Regions from separate parts of the Homo sapiens genome. Here region 1 is linked to region 2. The links come from fine-mapping of genetic effects on gene expression. A gene starts in region 2. The other region holds a variant in brackets. All regions are shown on one strand. Distances are from middle to middle.

What was found. PIP is the estimated chance that this variant, and not a neighbour inherited with it, causes the effect. A credible set is the group of variants that fine-mapping cannot tell apart.
Region 1: its variant is the best candidate, but not a certain one, in a credible set for the expression of OSMR in tibial nerve (GTEx, PIP 0.80).

What each region holds. Positions count from the first base shown.
Region 1 is chr5:39,173,680-39,179,057 of GRCh38, forward strand. All of the region lies in intron 2 of FYB1 (FYN binding protein 1), which reads right to left. Among named protein-coding and RNA genes, the nearest start is that of FYB1, 43 kb to the right of the region's middle. RefSeq lists enhancers at 3,202-3,261, 3,292-3,371. The variant A/G (reference allele first, on the strand shown) is at 2,212.
Region 2 is chr5:38,843,806-38,849,183 of GRCh38, forward strand. It overlaps OSMR (oncostatin M receptor), which reads left to right and starts at 2,207. Exons shown (of 18, transcript NM_003999.3): 1 at 2,207-2,582. It overlaps OSMR-DT (OSMR divergent transcript), which reads right to left and starts at 2,024. Exons shown (of 4, transcript NR_109951.1): 1 at 1,863-2,024.

The DNA.
Region 1 (5,378 bases), 330 kb after region 2:
ATCATTTATTGAAAAGGGAGTCCTTTCTCCATTGCTTATTTTTGTCAGTTTTGTCAAAGATCAGATAGTTTGTAGAAGTGTAGGTTCATTTCTGGGTTCTTTATTCTGTTCAGCTGGTCTATATGTCTGTTTTTGTACCAGTATCATGCTCTTTGGGTTACTGTAACCTTATAGTATAGTCTAAAGTCAGGCAGTAAGATGCCTTTGGCTTAGTTCTTCCTGCTTAGTATTGCTTTGTCTATTCAGTCTTTTTTTTGATTCCAGATGAATTTTAGAATAGATTTTTCTAATTCTGTGAAAAATGACATTGGCATTTTGATAGTGATAGCATTGAATCTGTAAATTGCTTTGGGCAGGCAGTATGGCCATTTTAATGATATCAATTCTTCCAATCCATGAGCATAGAACATTTTTTCCATTTATTTGTGTGGTCTCTGATTTCTTTCAGCAGTGTTTTGTGGTTCTCCTTGAAGAGGTCTTTGACTTCCTTGGTTAGATGAATTCCTAGGTATTTTATTTTCTTTGTAGCTATTGTAAATGGGATTGTGTTCTTGATTTGGTTCTCTGCTAGAATGTTGTTGGTATATAAAAATGCTACTGATTTCTGTACATAGAATCCCTTTTGGGCCTATCCTATATCACTTATAGAACAAATGACCAAGGAATCAGAATTTCTGTTCCTAGAGATAGAACCATAAAACCCTAGGACTGAAAGTCTTTGAATTTACTGTTCCAGTGCTTTTTATATAATTTGGCATAAACAAACCAGTTGATTATTTGTGAAGCCATCTTCCTGGTTCTGCACAGGACTTTAACACATGGAATAAGAATATCATTTAGACTTAGGGATGACATAGCATAAGGAAACCCTGAAAAACACTCTCCCTTTTTATCAAAGATGAAAAATCCAAGGTCCAGATAAGTTTAATAAATGATTTACTCAAGGACACAAAGCTTAAAAACATGAGCTCCCGGACTAAAATCCTGTTTTTCTTCTTTAAGTCTGAAGTTCTTTCTATCATGCCATGAAATCAAAATAAGCTCTTTCTCTCTTTTTAGTTTGTTTAAAAACCTTAAAAAGATAAAACATAAGCATCTTATTTTTGTTAGTGTTTTCAGCATCTCAATGGTGAAATAACTGAAAAGGTACATGTTACTCTCTAAGATGAAAGAGGAAGCTAAGAAGAGACTAGGCAAAATGCAAAGTCAACAACTAATAGACTAAGGGCGAACAGAAGCAGGGAGACCTCTTCTCCCATAGAGAAACCAGTGTCTCAGCTTTTCTTTGTGATGAGGAGTACTGTAAAATTTTTTAAAAGTTATGGTTCTATTTGTTTGCTTGCTCTTACCTGTGTGTGTGCGTTTGTGGTGGGATGATTATTTAGGAGTAAGCAAGATTGACAAATAAACAATAAGGAGGAGGGGAATTGCTGATAGTCAAGTCTCTAAGCTGGGGAAAGGGAAAAGGGGCATGAGGTAGGAAAAGAGAACAGAATGGAGATCCAGCCAGGCAGACACTACATTGGCTATTCAACCTTCTTTAAGGAGAAACCAAGAATATGTCAAAGAAGGAGCCCAGTTGGTAGGCGTAGGGAGTTTGACAACAGCAACTGGGTTAGACATCTATCAGACAGGGAGACAGGGTTTGGAGAAGACTCCGGTTGATTGATGACTCTGATATAAGCGGTGAACATTGTTGGATTGAGTTGACACCATTCTATCAAGAAAGTGACTCACATGGGCTGGAGTATGCCGGTGTCCAATGGTTGTAACTAGCTGGGGGCTTCTTTTGACTCATTGGGGAAAACCTCTGCCTTCTTCTGGGACTTATAAAAGAGAAGTGACAAAACTTGCTGTGAAAGCAGGTAGAAACGCTGCTGTGTAATTTAATAATAGGCTCAACAATTTATATGCCCTTTTCATGCGGGTACATGCTGTGTGGAATGTTTCTGAGAGATTTTAAACTGCAGGCTCCTAACTACCCAGTATTCTTCCTGGCCACTCCTTAAAGAATGCTGGGCAGAAAGGAATCTCAGAACTCATTGGCTGGTGCCTCCAAATGGGGGTAGGCAGTACCAGCTTTCAAGGAAGTGTTTGGAATTGAGTGCTGGTGTTGGGGGAAGGGGTTGCTTTTGGTCATTACAATAGTGAATAACCTAGTGAATGCTACTGGCTTCTTAGGGGCTCAAGGTCAGGGAGTCTAAAATTCCT[A/G]TGATAGGAGAATTCTAATGGATAAGGAATAGTGTGTCCCAGACATCAGTGACATTCAAGAATATGGAATCACTCATTTTATAGCTGAGATCCAGAAGGATTATGTGCTCCAGGGGCCGGTACAGAGCACAGATCAGCTCTCCTCAAATACAGCCTCCCTTCTACGGGAACTCATTCTAGTGCCCCACAGTGGCCTCTTCATATTTGTTGTCTTGTGTTCAGAGAATCCCAAGTCATTTTTTTTCTGTTTTTTTTTTTTTTTTTTTTTTTTTTTTTTAAAGACAGAGTCTCACTCTGTCGCCCAGACTGGAGTGCAATGGCGCGATCTTGGCTTACTGCAACCCCCACCTCCTGGGTTCAAGTGATTCTCCTGCCTCAGCCTCCCGAGTAGCTGGGATTACAGGTGCGCACCACCAGGCCCAGCTCATTTTTGCATTTTTAGTAGATACAGGGTTTCACCAGTTGGCCAGGCTGGTCTCGAACTCCTGACCCCAGGTGATTCACTCGCTTCGGCCTTCCAAAGTGCTGAGATTACAGGCATGAGCCACCATGCCAGGCCCCAAGTCATTTTTATATTTGCTTAAGAACAACATGTTTAGAAAGGCACACTGCTGCTATTACAATCATTAACAAAAGATAATCTATACTTTGAAATAAAACAATGAAACATTTAACAACCTGCAACTTTGGATGATCATATGATTGGTCTTCATTTCTTGATTATTCTGACTGGTGTTTCTTTAAAAGTGCCAATCTTTAAAAAGATAAATGCTGTTTGTCTCTCAAAACAGTCATAAATTGTGGGAAAGGAAACAAAGACGAAAACATTAGTTTTTCAGAAATGAGGCTTTTTGTTAAAAGTAAAATAAAAATAGCAACACAACTTCCTGATTTTCTGAGTGAAGTTATTTCATGTGCTAGTTATTTGGTGTGGCTCCTCAAGCCCATTTTAATTGAGATGGTGTAGGCAGCTAAAAGAAATGCACTGGTAAAACCACAACTAGGTTTCATCTTGATAGGCAGGAGCAAAAACAGAAAGGAAAGAGGCCAGCCTAATTTCCAGAGACTGGGGGGTTACAATTTCAATTAGGCATCATGGGTGTGTGGGAGGAAGGCAGTTATCCTCATTCTCCTGTATGTTGTTTCTGACTTTGAAAGATGTAGACTATCTCAGGAACTTTTGTCCTGGCAACAGTAGAATATAACTTTTTGATGGCTTTCATTATTTCCAGGCATTGGTAGCTCACACTTATTTCAGTACCATCCTGAATTTAGTAACATCATGCAGTGGCCCCACAGGCTGGAGGCTAGACACCTATCTTGTTTCCTGAGGGCTGTGGCTAACCTCCAAAGTTTATTGTTTCTGTTGCTGCCTTCTTACTATTGTGCGCCTGCTACCTAGAGAGGACTCTATTTCCTTGGGGTAACTAACAAACCAAAGAAGTCCGTAACCTACCTGTTCCTTTAAATTCACAGAGCTATAGAGCTAGAAGGTATCTCAGGGGTGGTCTAATTCAACCTTCACATTTTGCAAAATGAGAAGGTGGTCAAAGAAGTTATTTGTCCCAGGTCTCCCAAAGCTGACAGAGTTGGGCCCAGGACTGAATCTCTTGACATTAAACCTAACCACATTGCTCAATGTAATAACTGCAGGCTGATTAAGTTCTCTACAACGTATTGTGCTCAAACTACTGATTGTCATAGAATCATTTAGAATGCAAAACTATTTTTTCCCACAGTGAGTTTTACAAAATTTGCCATTGTTTTACTTCAAACTTTTGAGCCTCAACATTTTATATATGAAATGGCACCAACAAAATCTGTAACTCTCTTCATTTTCTTTTTCACGTCCTGGAGATTGCATGTGTACGTGTGTATGCTTTGTGAGATAAGGTGTCTTGCAGCTCTGGCTTTGAACAACAAAGTTGCTGAAGCTGTTAGAAGCTGCAAGAATACCCACTTCCTACTTTACTGGTGACATATTTTTGCAAAGCTGTTCTCACTCCGCTTCCCCATCTCAAGCAAATTAAGATTTAGAACAATGACTTTAAGTTCCCTTTTATGCTACTTCTGCTCTTGTACAGTAAAATAGCTTTCCTGCAAACACAAAATATTTTCCACCAGTGAACTAAAATTGTAAGTATTATCTGTTACCTGCATTGACCTCATGCAGCATTTCCCCCAAAGTTAATTCCTGTGAACATTGGTCCTACTTAGATATTTTGGGAGAAAGAACAAAAAGGTTCTGTGGTCAAATATGATTTGGAAATTGCTGTGAATTATACTTTTCCTTTGATATTCATAGTGTTCATTACTGTCTCAAAGACTTTATAATAAGAGAACTAATTTAACTTTGCTTAACCCAAGATTTTCTGAATGTATTTGAATCATTTTTCCTCTGCAACATTCATGTGTGAACATCCTGCAGAAGGCTTAGTAGATGAGTCATGATGAGATTACAGTAGCGTTTATTGAGTGTGTACTGTATGCCCTACAGTTTTACAAGCACTTTAGTGGGATGATGCCTCTGTCAGGCTCAAATATCATAGAACAAATTCAGACTCTATAGTCGTCAAAATGCCCGTGGTTTAATTTTGGCTGTCCTTCCTATGAATTACATAACATTGTATAAATCACTTAATCTCTGAGCCTCTGAATCTTCACTGTAATATGGGAGAATAAAGACAGACTATGAGGTAATGTGGAGAGAGACGAAAATAAAGTTACTGGTAAAATATCCAAATAAAGTGGAAAAACATGGGCAACATTGAGGTTTTTTTTAACTGCAACAAGATTCAAAAAAATGCATAAGTCCTCCCATTATGTTTCTGATGACAACTGAGGTGAATTTAAAAAATCTTTAAAGAAATATCACCTGGGAAATTAACATTGTGTGTACTAGACAGCTTCCCCCCAACATCTTTTAACACATTGCAATAGTTTTCTGATAGGTACCGGATAATTTTCTTATAATCTTAGGAAATCCTTTATGTTAGGAAACGTATCATCTTGTCAAGCACATAGAAAACTGGCTGAGTTTGAAAATCTTCTATCTAGCCCTGGCTTTCCGCGGGCTGGGGCACAGAAGAGTCCATACGTAGTTTTGCATGTAAATGTCGGCTTGTTTGTTCCCACACTAGCTAACAAGAGTCCTTTTAAGTCCATGA
Region 2 (5,378 bases):
GTTCCGTTCCTCTCTCCTAGCTTCTGGTGGTGGTCAGCAACCTTGCCATTCCTTGGCTTGAGTCAGCATAAGCAGGATCTGTCTCAGTGGTCACACAGTGTTCTTTCTGGGTGTCTGTGTCCAAATTCCCCCCTTTTCAGAAGTACAGCAGACACTGGATTAATCTTATATGACCTCAGGTTAACTTGATTAAAGCTGCAAAAACATTATTTCCAAATAAACTGATATTTGGAGGTTTTGGGTGGATCTGACTTTATGGACCCAGTGCACCCACTGTTAAGGGTATAATCGCGAATTTATATGGTGCTACTGCATCTAGATTCTAGAATAACGTATAAATTTAAGAAATTAGAATGGTGCAAAAACAGATAAATTATATGTGGGCACCAAATTTTTACACTTCAGTCTCCTTCAATTGCAATAGGAGCCCAAAATAAGCCTCACTTTTTAGAAATTCATACTGGGCTGAATATTTTTATTTGACATCTCATTTGCTAGAAGAGAGATCCCTTTTAACTGTTTCTATAAAGAATAATTTTTTTTCTCAGTAAAATATAAAATCATAAAGACTTTCCAACTCTTGGGCTTGGCAGTTTCCATAACCATGCAGATGGCTAAACTAATGGACTCTTTAAAACTCTTCAAGTAATGAGAGGTGTGGCAAAGGACCATACATTTATTGAGACAAAAATACATTTTATTATCATCAAATATTTACTATGCATCATGGTCTTTGTGGCCCCATTAGGTATTAAGTGTATTAGGGCCTTTAGGCCTTTGTTTTAGGAAAAATAAAAAAACAAAAGGACTCTCAGCTTTCCTTGGGATGACATTGGGGAGGAGCCAGATATGTGAACAAACACAAAAGTAACATTTTAAAATAATTCTGACATTATTTTGAGTCATCCAGTCAATTCAATATAGGATTCTAAGATATGTTTATGGTCGATACTTGTTGATCACTCTTGGTTCCCTCCCCCACCCCCCTCCTACAACCTTGCTTTTGTGATACTTTCCAGGGTCCCCAAACTCAAACCAAACTAGGCTCAGCTGATCTGGAGCAAGGCCCCTTGCCTGCTGATTTGTCAGGCATCCAGACAGGCGAGGCTATGGGAGCTCCCGGTCCGAGGCTGCCTCGGAAGGCTCCTGTTATCCTCTAAGAGAGGTGAAATGCACCTTTCAAAGGCCCAGACACGGTAAAGATTGGATGGCATTTTTGGCCGGGCGCAGTGGCTGACGCCTGTAATCCCAGCACTTTGGGAGGCTGAGGCGGGCGGATCACGAGGTCAGGAGATCGAGACCATCCTGGCTAACACGGTGAAACCCCGTCTCTACTAAACATAGAAAAATTAGCCAGGCGTGGTGGCGGTCGTCTGTAGTCCCAGCTACTAGGGAGGCTGAGGCAGGAGAATGGTGTGAACCCGGGAGGCGGAGCTTACAGTGAGCCGAGATCGCGCCACTGCACTCCAGCCTGGGTGACACAGTGAGATGCCGTCTCAAAAAAAAAAAAAAAAAAAGGTTGAAGATTGGATGGCATTTTTAAGGGGAAAAGTAAACCATGTGTAGCATGTCGTAGCATTGGGAAATAAAGGTTTCGGGACTGTTGTAGCCGAAGAAACTTTGTCGGACAGGGCGTTTCTGGATAGAACGCGAGTAGGGGAAAAATGGGGACCGTTTGATTCGGTTCAAACACGTTTTCGTTGCTCTGGACGCCAAATGGAAACACGGCCAAAATTTAGTTAAAGGACTTCTCTTGCCTGAAGATTTTCGGACGGGGATCTCACGGGTTTGGCCTCTGGGTTGGGATGACAAGTGCCCCTGTGGGATACACAGCCCCAGGCCTCATCGGTCACTCGGCTTACCTCTGGTTCCGCCGGCTGGCCCGTGCGTCCTTGGCCGGGGCAGGAGCAGCGCTGCGCGCGGGGCACGGAGCCTCGGCCGCCGAGTTTTCGGTTTCCAAGTTTCCTTCCCAGGCCTCTCCCACTTCCTCTTCTCACCAGTGCCCGCCCGCCCGCAAAGTCCGGGTTGTGAGGCTGCGCCTCCCCCAGGATCGCGGCCGCCTCCCCCCGGGACTGAAGGGAGGGAATTCCTGTGGGTCCCAGGAGTGCCAAGAGTGCGCAGCAAGACGGGAAATTGCAAAAGACCTCACCCCTCTGCCCTCCCCCGCGGTTTTCCAGTAACTCCCGCCCCTCCGCGCTTGCCCCGCAGCTGATTCATAGCCCCGGCCCGGGCCGCCTCTGCACGTCCGCCCCGGAGCCCGCACCCGCGCCCCACGCGCCGCCGAGGACTCGGCCCGGCTCGTGGAGCCCTTCGCCCGCGGCGTGAGTACCCCCGACCCGCCCGTCCCCGCTCTGCTCGCGCCCTGCCGCTGCGCCGCCCTCGGTGGCTTTTCCGACGGGCGAGCCCCGTGCTGTGCGGGAAAGAATCCGACAACTTCGCAGCCCATCCCGGCTGGACGCGACCGGGAGTGCAGCAGCCCGTTCCCCTCCTCGGTGCCGCCTCTGCCCAGCGTTTGCTTGGCTGGGCTACCACCTGCGCTCGGACGGCGCTCGGAGGGTCCTCGCCCCCGGCCTGCCTACCTGGTGGGTGAAAACTAAATGATTCATTCCTTACAGGCCGCACAGTGCCGAGTCGCCCATTTCTCAGACTGTTTGAAATTCACCATCCCAGCGCCTTTTTCTCAAATGATGGTGGAATGTTTGTTGAGTGGAAAATTCCCACTTGAATCCCTCTTTCCTCTCTCCCAACACATCGTGTGGAGGAGTTCATTGCTTCCCCTACCTCTCCTCTCGTAACCCTTGACTCCCACCTGAGAGAGCCATTTTTCTGGGAATCCGTGTATCTCTCCCACCTGGTCCCTAGCGTAGAAGCGGGAGGAGCTCAAGCACAGGTGGAGAGAGGAATCCCCGGGCGACTCTGCAATAGCGTCCGTCCGGGGCGCTTACCTTCTTCTCCAGCCACTTGAGTGGAAGTGGCCCTCTACATTCTGGAAACCTAGGCACGGAGGGGTTCAGTAACTTGTCCAAGGCCATATGGCTAGCTGTGAGGGCACTGAAATCCGAGCCCGGCTCTCGCAGGCCAGGGCTTTACCCCTGACACCGCGATTCCTTTCTCGATAGTTCTTCATCTGCCCTTCATCCACCTACCCATGCATGCCTGCATCCGTCCATCCATCCTGCCTGCCTTGCTGCGGGAGGCACAGTGCTAGGTGCTGCTGATGGAGTGGCTTGGTAACAGACCTGCCTTGAAAACACTTTGGGAACAAGATATTCAAGAGAAGTAAATGGAAGGGTCTATGAAGGCAGAGAAGATAGAATTGAATGTAGGATACTTAGTTTGAGCTAGAAGGAATTCTGATGGAGGAGAAAGAAATTTTTAGGTTTTATTCCCAAGATTAAAACTGACTTTGGAACATGGGTCAAACTACTTATCACCTCTTAGTTTCCTTGTCTGCAAATAATAATGGTTCATACTTACTGTGAACCAGCCCCTATTCTAAGCACTTGACATATGCTAGCTCATTTAAGCTTCACGGGTGAGGCGGGTACTAGTTTTTTATTATATTTTATTGAGGAAACTGAGGCCCAAAGAGGTTTTGTAACTTTTCTAGGGTTACACAGCTAGCAGGTGACAGTATCAGGATTTGGGTTTGGAGTCTGCTCATGATCACCGTGCTGTAGCTCAAACTCTAAGACTGGGTGGGGTGTTTCATTATGGTCTTGCTTTGTCTCTCTCCTGGGCTGCTTTAAAATGCACTCAGAGCCCTTGATGTCCCCAAACTCCGCTGTGTCTGAGAATCATTTCTTGAGCTTTCAAAGCATCAAACTCCAAACACAGCCTTCTATTCAGAATCTTCAGGAAATACTCAGTTTGTTTTCCCCGTAGCATTTGTTCAGTGCCTCCAGTGGCAGGAAGCTCACCACCTCACATTTTATTGTAGGAAGAGCTAGTTCTCTGCTGTAAATTGCCTCCTTGTGACTTACATCTTGGTCCCAGTTCCCGTTTGTCCCAGCAGGTGTGGCTAAGCCTTTTGTATCAAAGGTGGCTTTGAGAGAAAAAGGCTGGTCTTGGGTGTTTCTTCCGCAGGGACCCGAGCCGCATTGGGGAGAACACATAAACACTGGTTCTTTCCCCCTCTACCCTTTTCTTTAACCTGAACAGACCAGGAACACATGCAGAGGTGTTCCTGGATCTCTCATGTTTTTGTAACCCTTTTGTCCTGAGGACAAAACCGAATCAGGAGAACTGTTACGGTTTTCAAAGGGGAATCAGTGGTACTGTATTTAACAAGAAGAAGGTGTGTATTTTCCTTGTGGGAAAGGACTGGGGCATTCATTGGCTGCAGTAGAAGAGAATCTTAGTGAGTGTGGTCTTGCTCACTTACAGGAACTGTGAGCCTTGGCCCTCCTTTCGCTGGGGGAGAAAATCCTTCTTGATTGCTTAAAAAATGTGTAAAATGGGGGGAAAAAAACCCAAACCAAAACAAATAGAATATCATGGCCTTGCTGGAGAAATCCCCTCCTCCAAGCAGGCTTCTTTGTAGCTACATGAAGAGAGAATTTCTTTTCCAACAGCTGTGTTGGTGGCTTCATAGCCTTCCTTCCCTCCTCATTTTAGTTGTACTGGTCGCTCTGCATTTGTGCACTCCACGTTGTATTCTATTTTTGTGTTTTAAAAATAATACAAATAATAACAACTCATTCTCACTCAATATAGAAGTGAAGTGAAATGTAGACGTGCCATCACCATCCTCCCTCCTCCCACTCAGAAGAGGGAAGGTTAAGTTTGATAATACCATTCTAAGGCTTGTTTTTCTTTTCTATAGTTTTACATAATACATACATATACATATGTTTTAAATATGCAAATTATCTTACTATACTTATTGTACAGCTTGCTTTTTCACTTTCCAAGTCTTAGAGATCTTTCCATTGTCTCTAGATACCTCTTTTGTTAATGGCTACGTGTTATTCTTTTTGTGTGTGTGTGAGATGGTCTCACTCTGTCACACAGGCAGAAGTGCAGTGTCATGATCATGGCTCACTGCAGCCTCGACCTTCTGGGCTCAAGTGATCCTCCCACCTCAGCCTCCTGAGAAGCTGGAACTACAGGCACATGACACCACACCTGACTTTTTTTTTTTTGTATTTTTTGTAAAGATTGGGTCTCTCCATGATGCCCAGACTGGTCTTGAACTCCTGGGTTCAAGCAGTCCACCTGCCTTGGCCTCCCACAGTGCTAGGATTACAGGCGTGAGCCACTGCGCCCGGCCAGCTACATGTTATCCTAAAGTAGAAATAGAATGTAATTTATCCATCCTTTCCTATATTGATGGACATTCAGCATTAGCAACGTTGCTTCAGAGCAGATCACACATT